2 separate regions of the Homo sapiens genome follow, and region 2 is linked to region 1. Evidence: fine-mapped expression QTL. A gene starts in region 1. The other region holds a variant in brackets. All regions are shown on one strand. Distances are from middle to middle.

Region 1 (5,385 bases):
TTTCCTGGGACCTTGAATGAACAGGTTAAGGCATTTGGACTCTGTCCTAAAAGCAGCGAAGAGTCAATGCATCACTAAGCCAAGATCAAATCTGTGCATCAAAAAAGTACCTCTAGGCCGGGTGTGGTGGCTCACATTAATCCCAGCAACTTGGGAGGCCGAGGCAAATCACTTGAGCTCAAAAGTTCAAGACCAGCCTGGGAAACATGATAAAACCCCATCTCTACCAAAAATATAAAAAATTAGCTGGGCCTGGTGGCAGGCGCCTGTAGTCCCAGTTACTTGAGGGGCTGAGGCAGGAGGATAACTTAAATGTGGGAGGCTGAGGCTGCAGTGAGCTGAGATCATGCCACTGTGCTCCAGCCTGAGTGACAAAGCGAGACCCTGTCTCAAAAAAAACAAAAATACAAAGTAATAAAATAAATTTAAAAAAAAAAAGACAAGTACCTTTGGCTAAAGGGCAAAGAATGGCTCTAAACCGTATTGGGGTCACAAACTGCTCTGAGAAGTGAATGAAGCCATGAAGACTGGGCTTTAAAAACATGACTCTCACACACACACATATACCAAATCTCACCTATTTCTAGAGACACCCACATCCACAGACTCCAGGGTAAAAACTTGTGGATTTAAGGCACAAAGGCTGGGCACGGAAGTCAGTTAAAGACCACTACAGTAGATGTAGTTACAGAAGCAGCATAATCAGGTGTGGGCGGTTTTTCATGTCCTACAGTCCTGGGTTTGAATCCCACCTCATCTACATCTTGCTCTATGACCTTAAGCGAATCACTCAACCTCTCTGAACTTCTTATCTGTAAATGGGGATAGTAGTGAGAATTAAGGTAACACATGTAAAATACAGTAGAATAGTGGTTGAAAACGATGACTTGAAAGCCAGACAACCTGGAATGGAACCCCAGCTCTGCCACTTGCTCCATGCTCATGATCTTGGGCAAGCTGCTTAACACCTATCTGCCACATATACAAAAGAGATAATAATGGCTACCTTGAAAGGGTTGAGGGCTGAATGAGCTAGCATGTATAAAACACTTAAATAAGTACCTGACAAATGGTAAATATCCACTAAGTATTAGCTGCTATAATTCATTATTACATTGTTACTGCCAAGAGATGATGCAAGGCTATAACACAGCAGTGGTAGAGAGAGTAGGAAGGAGAGAACAAGAGACTTGAGAACTAGAACATAATAACTAAATACATGCCCAGAGGGAGAGGGAGCTTCAAGTTCCTTATAACTCAGAGTATTCAGCTTGCAAACCTCCCCTGACTGGGAATTCACTAGCTCTCACAACAACCAGTCAATGTTCAGGAAGTTCTATTCAGTTATTCTGATTTATTTATTTATTTTATTTATGAAATGGGGTCTCACTCCATCACCCAGGCTGCAATACAGTGACACAATCTCTACTCACTGCAACTTCTGCCTCCCAGGCTCCCATCCCAGCCTCCCAAGCAGCTGGGAACACAGGCGAACACCACCACACCTGGCTAATTTTTTGTATTTTTGGTAAAGAAAGGGTTTTGCCATGTTACCCAGGCTGGTCTCGAACTCCTGAGCTCAAGAGATCCACCCGCCTCGGCCTCCCAAAGTGCTGGGATTACCGCACCCAGTCCAGTTATTCTTTCTGCTGAAGAATCTGTCTCTTAGTGCTTCAAACCACTTTTAGTTTTAGTTTTGGTACCCAAAGCCACACAAAATAAGTCTCACCTCTTTTCCACAAGTGAGTTTTTATTTAGGGGCAGCTATTCCACCACCCCCTCACCCCTTCTACAGGCTGAAGGTCCCCAGTCCTCAAAAACATGTCTGTTCCACATCACATCTTATCTGCATGGAATCCTAGCAGCTCTCCTCTAAGTATATTTCACTCATCTGGTTGACAGATGGTGAATATAAAAAGTATATTTCAGTTTGTGTCTGCCCCTTTTAAACTGTTGCTCAGCACAGGATACAGGGCAACGGTCTGTGGACCGCACAGAGATCAGGCCAGCTCTGCCTCTCAGCTGGCGATCAGCTCGCGTCTACCTGTACTATCAAGCACCATCACGTTTTGTTTTTGTCTCTACCACTAGGCAAACAATTCCTATATTCTGCTTATAGGGCAGAGACTATATTCCATTCATCACTATAATGGTAATTCCTAGTACCTTCTACAAAACAACTGCTCAATTGAGCCCAACCCAGGAATTCCAGGTTCTTCCAGGGGTTGCTGGATTAGTTTCTCCTACATGCTTGGATCAAGAAGGAGAAGGGCTCTCTTGCTCGTTTTGCCCTCCAGTTTTACTCCATCCAGCAGTTTTCTTCCCATCTAGAGACTCCCGGCTCTGGTCCGGCTCCCTTTCTTCCACGACTTCTCCCTCTTGTGTCCCCCGCAATCGTTCACACAAGCCACACATCTCACTTGTGCCCCAAGCCTGGGCTCCTCCCTCATTCTACGTGCTATTTTAGGATCCACTCCTCCAAGAAGTCAGTCCTGACCAACCCCATTCTCCTTCCCACAGCTGCCACATTTGGTCTGTGAAAACCTTGTTGTCCCCTGCCCCACACAGTGAGCAGTGAGCAAGCAGGGCCCACCAGAGTAGGGTCTGGAAAGTCTCGTCCCTCTTGTCCCCCCGAGTGGCAGAGGCTAACAGCCGCCTTCTCAAGCCTGGCTGGAGCACAGGGTGCGCCCATTCCCACCTTGAGTGTAGAGTTTGGAGCACGGATTCCTCAAGCTCGGCTCATGCCCTTCCTCCTCCTCCTCACGCCCTGGTGCGACCTCCGCAGGTACGCTTCAACCTCCGCACGGCGCTGAGCCACAAGAGACCAGCTAAAAGCAAAACCAGAAAACTTACTTGGCTCCATATCAAGAGACTCGGGACGGACGCAGGAAGGAATTCCCGCCCGGGTCCCGTATCCCCCGCCGCCACTACGCGCGAACCTCCACAGTCCACGTAACCAGGGAGGAACGGACTCCTCGGGTGTCTCGGGGGCGGCGCCCCGCGCCCAGGCTGGCTGGACTCGGAAGCTGGAGGAGCGCCCGCGTTCCACTGCCCCGGGGGATGCCCACGCCGGCACAGGAGAGGGGGCACACGGTTAAAACAGCTCCCACCTCCCCCAACCACAGTCCACGACCAGCCTCTCAGATGCCACCACTCTCCCGGCAGGCTCCAGACCACCTGGGTCGGAGGCTGAGCCGGGACCGGAAGCCGCACCGCCCCCCGCGCGCCGGGAAGCTCACCAGATCCCACGGCCCCGGAGGGGGCACCTGCCCAGCTCGCCGGGCCCCCGCACGCATGTAGCCGCCCACAACATCCGCGTAGTCACAGAAGCACACGCAGATAGTCATGCGTTGCTCTCTGATCTGGGGGCTGCTCCTTTCGTGGTTATGTCTCGGATTTTAAGAGTTGATGGTGATGAAGATCCCCCTCATGTGGACGAGTCCATTCAGCCCACCACCGAGAACGCTGTGGTGTTTCGGCCCGTACAACTCACTTCCGCCATAGAGACTGGAGGGAAGGAGGAGCCCTACGGGCTCTCGGCCGCCTCCCTAGGCCGAGCGGAGTCATCGGCGGCGAGCCTGGCCGGGAGACGCTGACGCGGTGCCCAACTCAGTCCGGACTGAGAGGTCTGGAAGGAACACTGATCACCGCAAGATGAGGGGCGTACCCCGTAGAGAGAGGTCCTGGAGATGAGCCCACACCGCTGTACTGCAGGACGCCCAGTGGATGGCAAAACTTGAGTTTGTTGAATGTGCGTAACAGACGGGATCCCTGGCCCTCCACCCACACAGATGCTGGAGAAAGGGGCTTCATCTCTCAGTGTTGCCTTTATGCAGCAGCACTACTTGATACCCCATGGTGACCAATCTGGTGACAGTCCTTCGGAGGCTAGTAATTCGGCCATTGCTTCTCTGCGTGACCCTCAACATCACTCATCCTTTCTGATGCTCTCTATAAACAGGTGGCTGTTGTGAGGATCACAGGAGATAACTCATATGAAAGATTTCTGTGACCTGTAAAGTCTAATATGAATACAAGTGTATTTTTAGTGCTGTGTAACTTCCTGGAGCGCATTTGGTTCTCCATGTAGATTGTAAGCCCAGAGCAGACAGGGCTTCGAGAGCTCGGTTAATGCACCCACCTCCAATAGGAGGCAGTATTTTTTTTTTTTTTTTTTTTTTTTTTTTTTTTGAGACGGCGTCTCGCTCTGTCGCCCAGGCTGGAGTGCAGTGGCGCTATCTCGGCTCACTGCAAGCTCCGCCTCCTGGGTTCACGTCATTCTCCTGCCTCAGCCTCCCGAGTAGCTGGGACTACAGGCGCCCACCACCACGCCCGGCTAATTTTTTTTGTATTTTTTTTAGTAGAGACGGGTTTTCACCGTGTTAGCCAGGATGGTCTCGATATCCTGACCTCGTGATCTGCCCGCCTCGGCCTCCCAAAGTGCTGGGATTACAGGCGTGAGCCACCGCGACCGGCCAGGAGGCATTCTTAAGGTGTTAGCTGGGGATTACCATGCTCATTTTCTGGCCCATTGGGGTGCCTCACGCCTGTGATCCCAACATTTTGGAAGGCTTAGGACAGAGCATCACCTGGGGCCGGGGGTTCAAGACCAGCCTGGTCGACATAGTGAGACTCCCATCTTTAAAATAAAAATTAAAAATTTAGCTGGGCGTGTTGGTGTACCCCTGTAGTCCCAGCTACTTCAGAGGCTGAGGTGGAGGATCACCTGAGCCCAGGAGGTTGAAGCTGCAGTGAGCTATAATCACGCCACTGCATTGCAGGCTGAATGACAAAACAAGATCCTGTCTCAAAAAGAAAAAAAAAAAAAAGTCGGGTGTGATGGCTCATGCCTGTAATCCCGGTACTTTGGGAGGTCGAGGCTGATGGATCACTCGAGGTCAGGAGTTTGAGACCAGCCTGGCCAATATGGTGAAACCTCATCTCTACCAAAAATACAAAAAAAAAAAAAAAGCCAGGTGTGGTGTCAGGCACCTGTAATCCCAGCTACTTGGGAGGCTGAGGCAGAAGAATTGCTTGAACCTGGGAGGTGGAGGTTGCAATGAGCTGAGACTGCACCACGGCACTCCAGCCTGGGCAACGGAGAGAAACCCTGTCTCAAAAAAAAAAAAAAAGCTGATTTTTCTAACACATGCTTTTATTTCCCAAAACGATAATAGATAACATTTATTAGGTGGAATGGAAAGGTCATGATTTTAAATACCATATATGTGTACATATAAATTTAAACCTGATACTAATCAATCCTGCAATATAGATAAGAAATTGGGCCGGGCATGGTGGCTCACGCCTGTAATCCCAGCACTTTGGGAGGCCGAGGCAGGTGGATCATTTGAGGTCATGAGTTCGAGACCAGCCTAACCAACA
Region 2 (5,385 bases), 30 kb before region 1:
ACCTCGGTCTTCCAAGATGCTGGGATTACAGGCATGAGCCACCGCACCGGCCAGAAGTGCCTGCCTTTTTAAGGCTGAATAGTCTTCCATTGTATGAATGCACTGCAGCGTGTTTTTTCATTCATCTGTCCACGAACCCTTGGGTTGCTTCCCCATTTTGGCTGTTGTGAATAATGCTGCTATGAATATGGGTGTACAAATATCTCTTCCACTCCTGGCTTCTAATTCTTTTTGGTAGGAACCCACAAGTGCAACTGCGGGAACATCTGATGATTCTGTTTCTAATTTTTCCAGTACACGCCATACTATTTTCCCTGTTCCTTCATGGTTTTACATTCCCTCCAATCATATTCGAGCATTCCTACTTCCCTCTCGTTTCACCAATGCTTGTTTATCATATCCATCCTAATGTGTGGTATCACATTATTGGTTTGATTTGTGCTTCCCTATGATTAGTGATTTGAACATCACTTTAGATGTTTATTGGCCATTGCTATATCTTCTTTAGGGACATGTCTACTCAAATCTTCTGACCATTGTTAATGGGATGCTTTGGGTTTCTTGTTGTTTAGTTCTGGCTGTTCTTTATATATGATGGATATCAGCCTCTTTTCAGATATATGATTTGCAAATATTTTTCCTAATCCACGGGTTATCTTTTCACTCAGTTCACAGTGTTTTTTGATGTACAAAAGTGTCTGTCATTTAGATGTAATCCAAGGAATCTAATTTTCTTTTGTTGCCTATGCTTTTGGTGTCACATCCCAGAAAGCATTGCCCAATCTGATGTCATGAAAGTGTGGCCAATGTTTTCTTTTAGGCATATTATACTTTTAGCACTTGGGGTGAGGTCTTTGATCCAGTTTGTGTTAATTTTTGCACCTGGTGTGACATAGGGTCCACCTTCATTCTTCTGCATGTGGAGATCAAGTTTCTCCAACACCATTTCTTGAAAAGGCTGCTTTTCCACCAATGAACTTTCTTAGCACTCATGTTAAAAATCACTTGAACATATAGGTGAGAAGTTATTTCTGGGCTCAAAAACAAACAAACAGCAAGAGACAACAGATAAAGATACAGCATGGGCCGAGCGCAGTTGCTCACGCCTGTAATCCCAGCACTTTGGGAGGCCGAGGTGGGCGGATCACCTGAGGTCAGGAGTTCAAGACCAGCCTGACCGACAGGGAAAAACCCCCGTCTCTACTAAAAATACAACATTAGCTGGGTGTGCTGGCGCATGCCTGTAATCCCAGCTACTCGGGAGGTGGAGGCAGGAGAATCACTTGAACCCAGGAGGCAGAGGTTGCGGTGAGCCAAGACTGCACCACTACACTCCAGCCTGGGCAACAAGAGCGAAACTCCATCTCAAAACAAAAAAAAAACAAAAAAACAGCATGATTTCAAGAGCAGAAAGAGAAGAGCTTAAAAACCAGCATAATGAGAAAGTTAGGAAGCTTCTTACCAAAGCGTCTGGAAATATGCAAGAAATTCTTGTGAGTTAAATTTTCATACTGTACTATCAAACACTAGAACTCACTTATTCCATCTTTCTGTATTTTGGGACCCAATTATCCACTTCTCTTCATTCCCCATCCCACCCCTTTTCTTCCTAGCGTCTGCTAACCCCCTTTATACTCTCCACCTTCCTGAGATTCCTTTTGTGTGTAGGTGTGTGATGGAGTCTCTTTCTGTTGCCCAGGTTGGAGTATACAGGCACAATCCGGGCTCACTGCAACCTCCGCCTCCCGAGTTCAAGTGCTTCTTGGGCCTCAGCCTTCCGAGTAGCTGAGACTACAGGCACACGTCACCACACCCGGCTAATTTTTTGTGTTTTTAGTAGAGACGGGGGTTTCACTATGTTGGCCAGGAGGGTCTCGAACTCCTGGCCTCAAGTGATCCGTGTGACTCGGCCTCCCAAAGTGCTAGGATTACAGGCCTGAGCCACCACACCTGGCCAAGATTTTCTTTTTTGTTCCTACGTATAAGTGAGGACATGTAATATTTGTCATGCTGTGCCTGGCTTATTTCACTTAATATACAGACCTGTAATCTCATCCATTTTTTTCTGCAGTGGAGAGGATTTTACTCCTTTTTAGGCTGAATAATACTTCATTATGTGTGTATACCATAGTTTCTTAATTGAAACAAATTTCTAAAAAGCAAATATTTTTAAAATGTCTCAGAATGCGAAACTTTAGGGATACTGTGCCCATTTTATTCTTTTCTACTTCCCATTTTATGTATATGCAAGTGTATGTAATAAAGCAGCAATCAATGTATCAATCTATAACTTCAACAAATGTAAAATGAAAATGCTAAGTGGTGGCTGGGCGCGGTCACTCACGCCTGTAATCCCAGCACTTTGGGGGGCCGAAGTGGGTGGATCACCTGAGGTCGGGAGTTCAAGACCAGCCTGACCAATATGGAGAAACACTGTCTCTACTAAAAATACAAAAAAAAAAAAAAAAAAAAAATAGCTGGGCGCGGTAGCGCATGCCTGTAATCCCAGCTACTCAGAAGGCTGAGACAGGAGAATCGCTTGAATACGGGAGGCAGAGGTTGCAGTGAGCCGAGATTGTGCCATTGCACTCCAGCCTGGGCAACAAGAGTGAAACTCTGCCTCAAAAAAAAAAAAAAGAAAGAAAATATTACTCCCATTCTCGCAGGGGTTGTTCACCCCGATGATATTGTTTTCTAATATCCAGGGAAGGAGAGTATGATATTACTCCCAATATTGCAGGGGGTGTACACCTTTTTGTGATATTGTGTCTAATATCCAAGGAAACAGAGGATGATATTACTCCCAATATCGCAGAGGGTGGACACCCCCCTGGGATATTGTTCCTAATATCCCAGCGGGGAGAGGATGATATTACTCCCCATATCGAAGGAAATGTACACTACCCCTGTGATATTGTTCCTGATATCCAGAGAGGAAAAGAATGATATTACTCCCAACAGCGTAGGAAATGTATACCCGCGCTTGATATTTTTCCCAATATCCGGGGGGGGAGAGGATCATATTACTTCCAATATCACAGGGTGTGTACACCCCCTCTGTTATCTTGTTGCTAACATCCAGGTTTGGGGAGGATGTCATTACTCCCAATATCTCAGGGGTAGTACACAACCCCCCGTGACCTTGTTAGTAATTTCCTGGGTGGAGAGGATGATATTACTCCCAATATCACCAGGGTGTACACCCCACTGTGATATTTTTCTAAATATTCAGGGCGGGAGAGGATAATATTACTCCCAATATCGCAGAAGGTGCACATCC[CT/T]CCTGTGATATTGTTCATAGTATCCAGGGAAAAAGAGGATGATACTTTCAAAATAGCCGGGGTTTTCCACGACCCCCACGCCATGATGTTGTTCCTAATATCCAGGTGGGCAAAGAATCATATTACTCCAAATATCGCAGGTAGTATACAACCCCCTTGTAATGTTGTTCCTAATATCCAGGGAAGGAGGGAACGATATCACTACCAATATCGCACCAGCTGTACAACCCACTGTGATTTCATTTCTAAAAACCGTGGAGGAGAGGATATTACTTTCAATATCGCACGGATGTACACCCCCCACCCCGTGATACTGTTCCTAATATCCAGAGGGCGAGAGGATGATATTGCTCCTAATATCACAGGGGGTTTTACACCAATATCCCAGGAGGTGGACACCCCCCTGTGATGTTGTTCCTAATATCCAGGGGGAGAGAGGATGATATTACTCCCAATATCGCAGGGGATGTAAACCACCCGTGATATTACTTCTAATATCCAGGCAGAGAGAGGAAGATATTACTCCCAATATCGCAGCAGGTGTACAATCCCCGTGATTTGGTTTTTAACATCCAGGGGGCACAGGATGATATTACTACTCATGTTGCAGGGAGTGTACACACCCCTGTGAAACTCTTCCTAATATCCAGAGGGCGACAGGATGATATTACTCCCAATATCGCAGGGGGTACACACATCCCTGTGAAACTCTTCCTCATATCCAGAGGGAGAGAGGATACTACTCCCAATATTGCAGGGGGTGTACACAGCCTGTGATACTCTTCCTAATATCCAGAGAGAGAGAAGATGATATTACTCCCGATATCGCAGGGGGTGTACACAACCCTGTGATATTGTTCCTAATATCCAGAGCGAAAGAGGATGATATGACTCTCAATATCGCAAAGGGTGTACACCCCTCCTGTAATATTGTTCTGAATACCCTGGGAGGGAGAGGCTAAGATTACGTTGAATATCACAGGGAATGTACACCCTCCCCCTCTGATACCCTTCCTAATATCCAAGGGAAGAGAGGATAATTTTACTCCCAATATCGCAGAGGCAGTACACCCCCCCCCCCGTGATATTGTTCCTAATATACAAGGGGGGAGAGGATGATACTTCTCCCAATATCGCAGGGGTGTTCACATCCCCGGTTACATTTTTCCTAATATCTAGGGGAGAGACAATTAGATGACAGCAAATGTCACAGGGTCTGTACATCCCTTCCTGATATTGTTCCAATATCCAGGGGGGAAGAGGATGATATCAAATATCAAACGGGGTGTACGTCCCCCCCCCCCCACGATATTGTTCTTAATATTCATGAGGGGAGACGATGATATTACTCCAAATATCGCAGGGGTTGTTCACACCCCCTGTGATATTGTTTCTAATATCCAGGGGGGAGAAAATCATATTACTTCCAATATTGCAGGTGGTGTATACCCCACCTGAAATAGTGCACTGAATATCCAAAGAGGGAGAGGATGGTATTAATACCAATATCGAAGTGTGTGTACACGCCCCTTGTGACATGGTTTTTAATATCCAGGGGACGGGAGGATGATATTAGTCCCAACATCACAGAGGGTGTACACTACCCCTGTGATATTGTCCCTAACTTCCAGAGGGGAGAGGATGATATCACTCCCAATATCTCAGAAGTTGTACATCCCCCGTGACATTGTTCGTCATATCCAGGGAGGCACAGGATGACATTCCATTGAATTTCGCGACAGGCGTACACGCACACTGTGATATTGCTCCTAATATCCAAGAAGGGAGAGGATGATACTTCTCCCAATAAAGCAGTGGGTGTACGTTACCCCTGTGTTATTGTCTCTAATATCCGGGGGCGGGGGCGGGGGAGAGGATAACATTCCTTCGAATTTGGCAGGTGGTTTGATGCCCCTTGTGGTATTGGTTTTAATATCCAGCGGGGAAGAAAATACTACTACTCTCTATATCACAAGAAATGTACATCCCCCCTGTGATATTGCTACTAATATCCAGGGGTAGAGAGAATGATGTTACTCCCAATATCGTCAAAGTGTCCATCCCCGCTTTGGTATTGTTCTTAATATATGGACGGCAAGTATCA

Which allele goes with the higher level. Alleles are on the strand shown, and positions count from the first base shown. SD is a standard deviation of normalised expression in the study named.
For the expression in lymphoblastoid cells of the gene that starts at base 3,204 in region 1, allele T in region 2 goes with a lower level than allele CT (moderate effect, 0.54 SD a copy in TwinsUK).

Evidence for each region. PIP is the estimated chance that this variant, and not a neighbour inherited with it, causes the effect.
Region 2: its variant is the best candidate, but not a certain one, in a credible set for the expression of ATG101 in lymphoblastoid cells (TwinsUK, PIP 0.54).

What each region holds. Positions count from the first base shown.
Region 1 is chr12:52,067,797-52,073,181 of GRCh38, reverse strand. ATG101 (autophagy related 101) reads right to left here and starts at 3,204. Exons shown (of 4, transcript NM_021934.5): 1 at 2,940-3,204; 2 at 2,699-2,828. RefSeq lists enhancers at 2,856-3,571, 3,449-3,738.
Region 2 is chr12:52,097,712-52,103,096 of GRCh38, reverse strand. The region is part of intron 2 of SMIM41 (small integral membrane protein 41); the gene reads right to left. The region is part of intron 2 of SMIM41-AS1 (SMIM41 antisense RNA 1); the gene reads left to right. It also overlaps the pseudogene OR7E47P. Among named protein-coding and RNA genes, the nearest start is that of SMIM41-AS1, 18 kb to the left of the region's middle. The variant CT/T (reference allele first, on the strand shown) is at 3,281.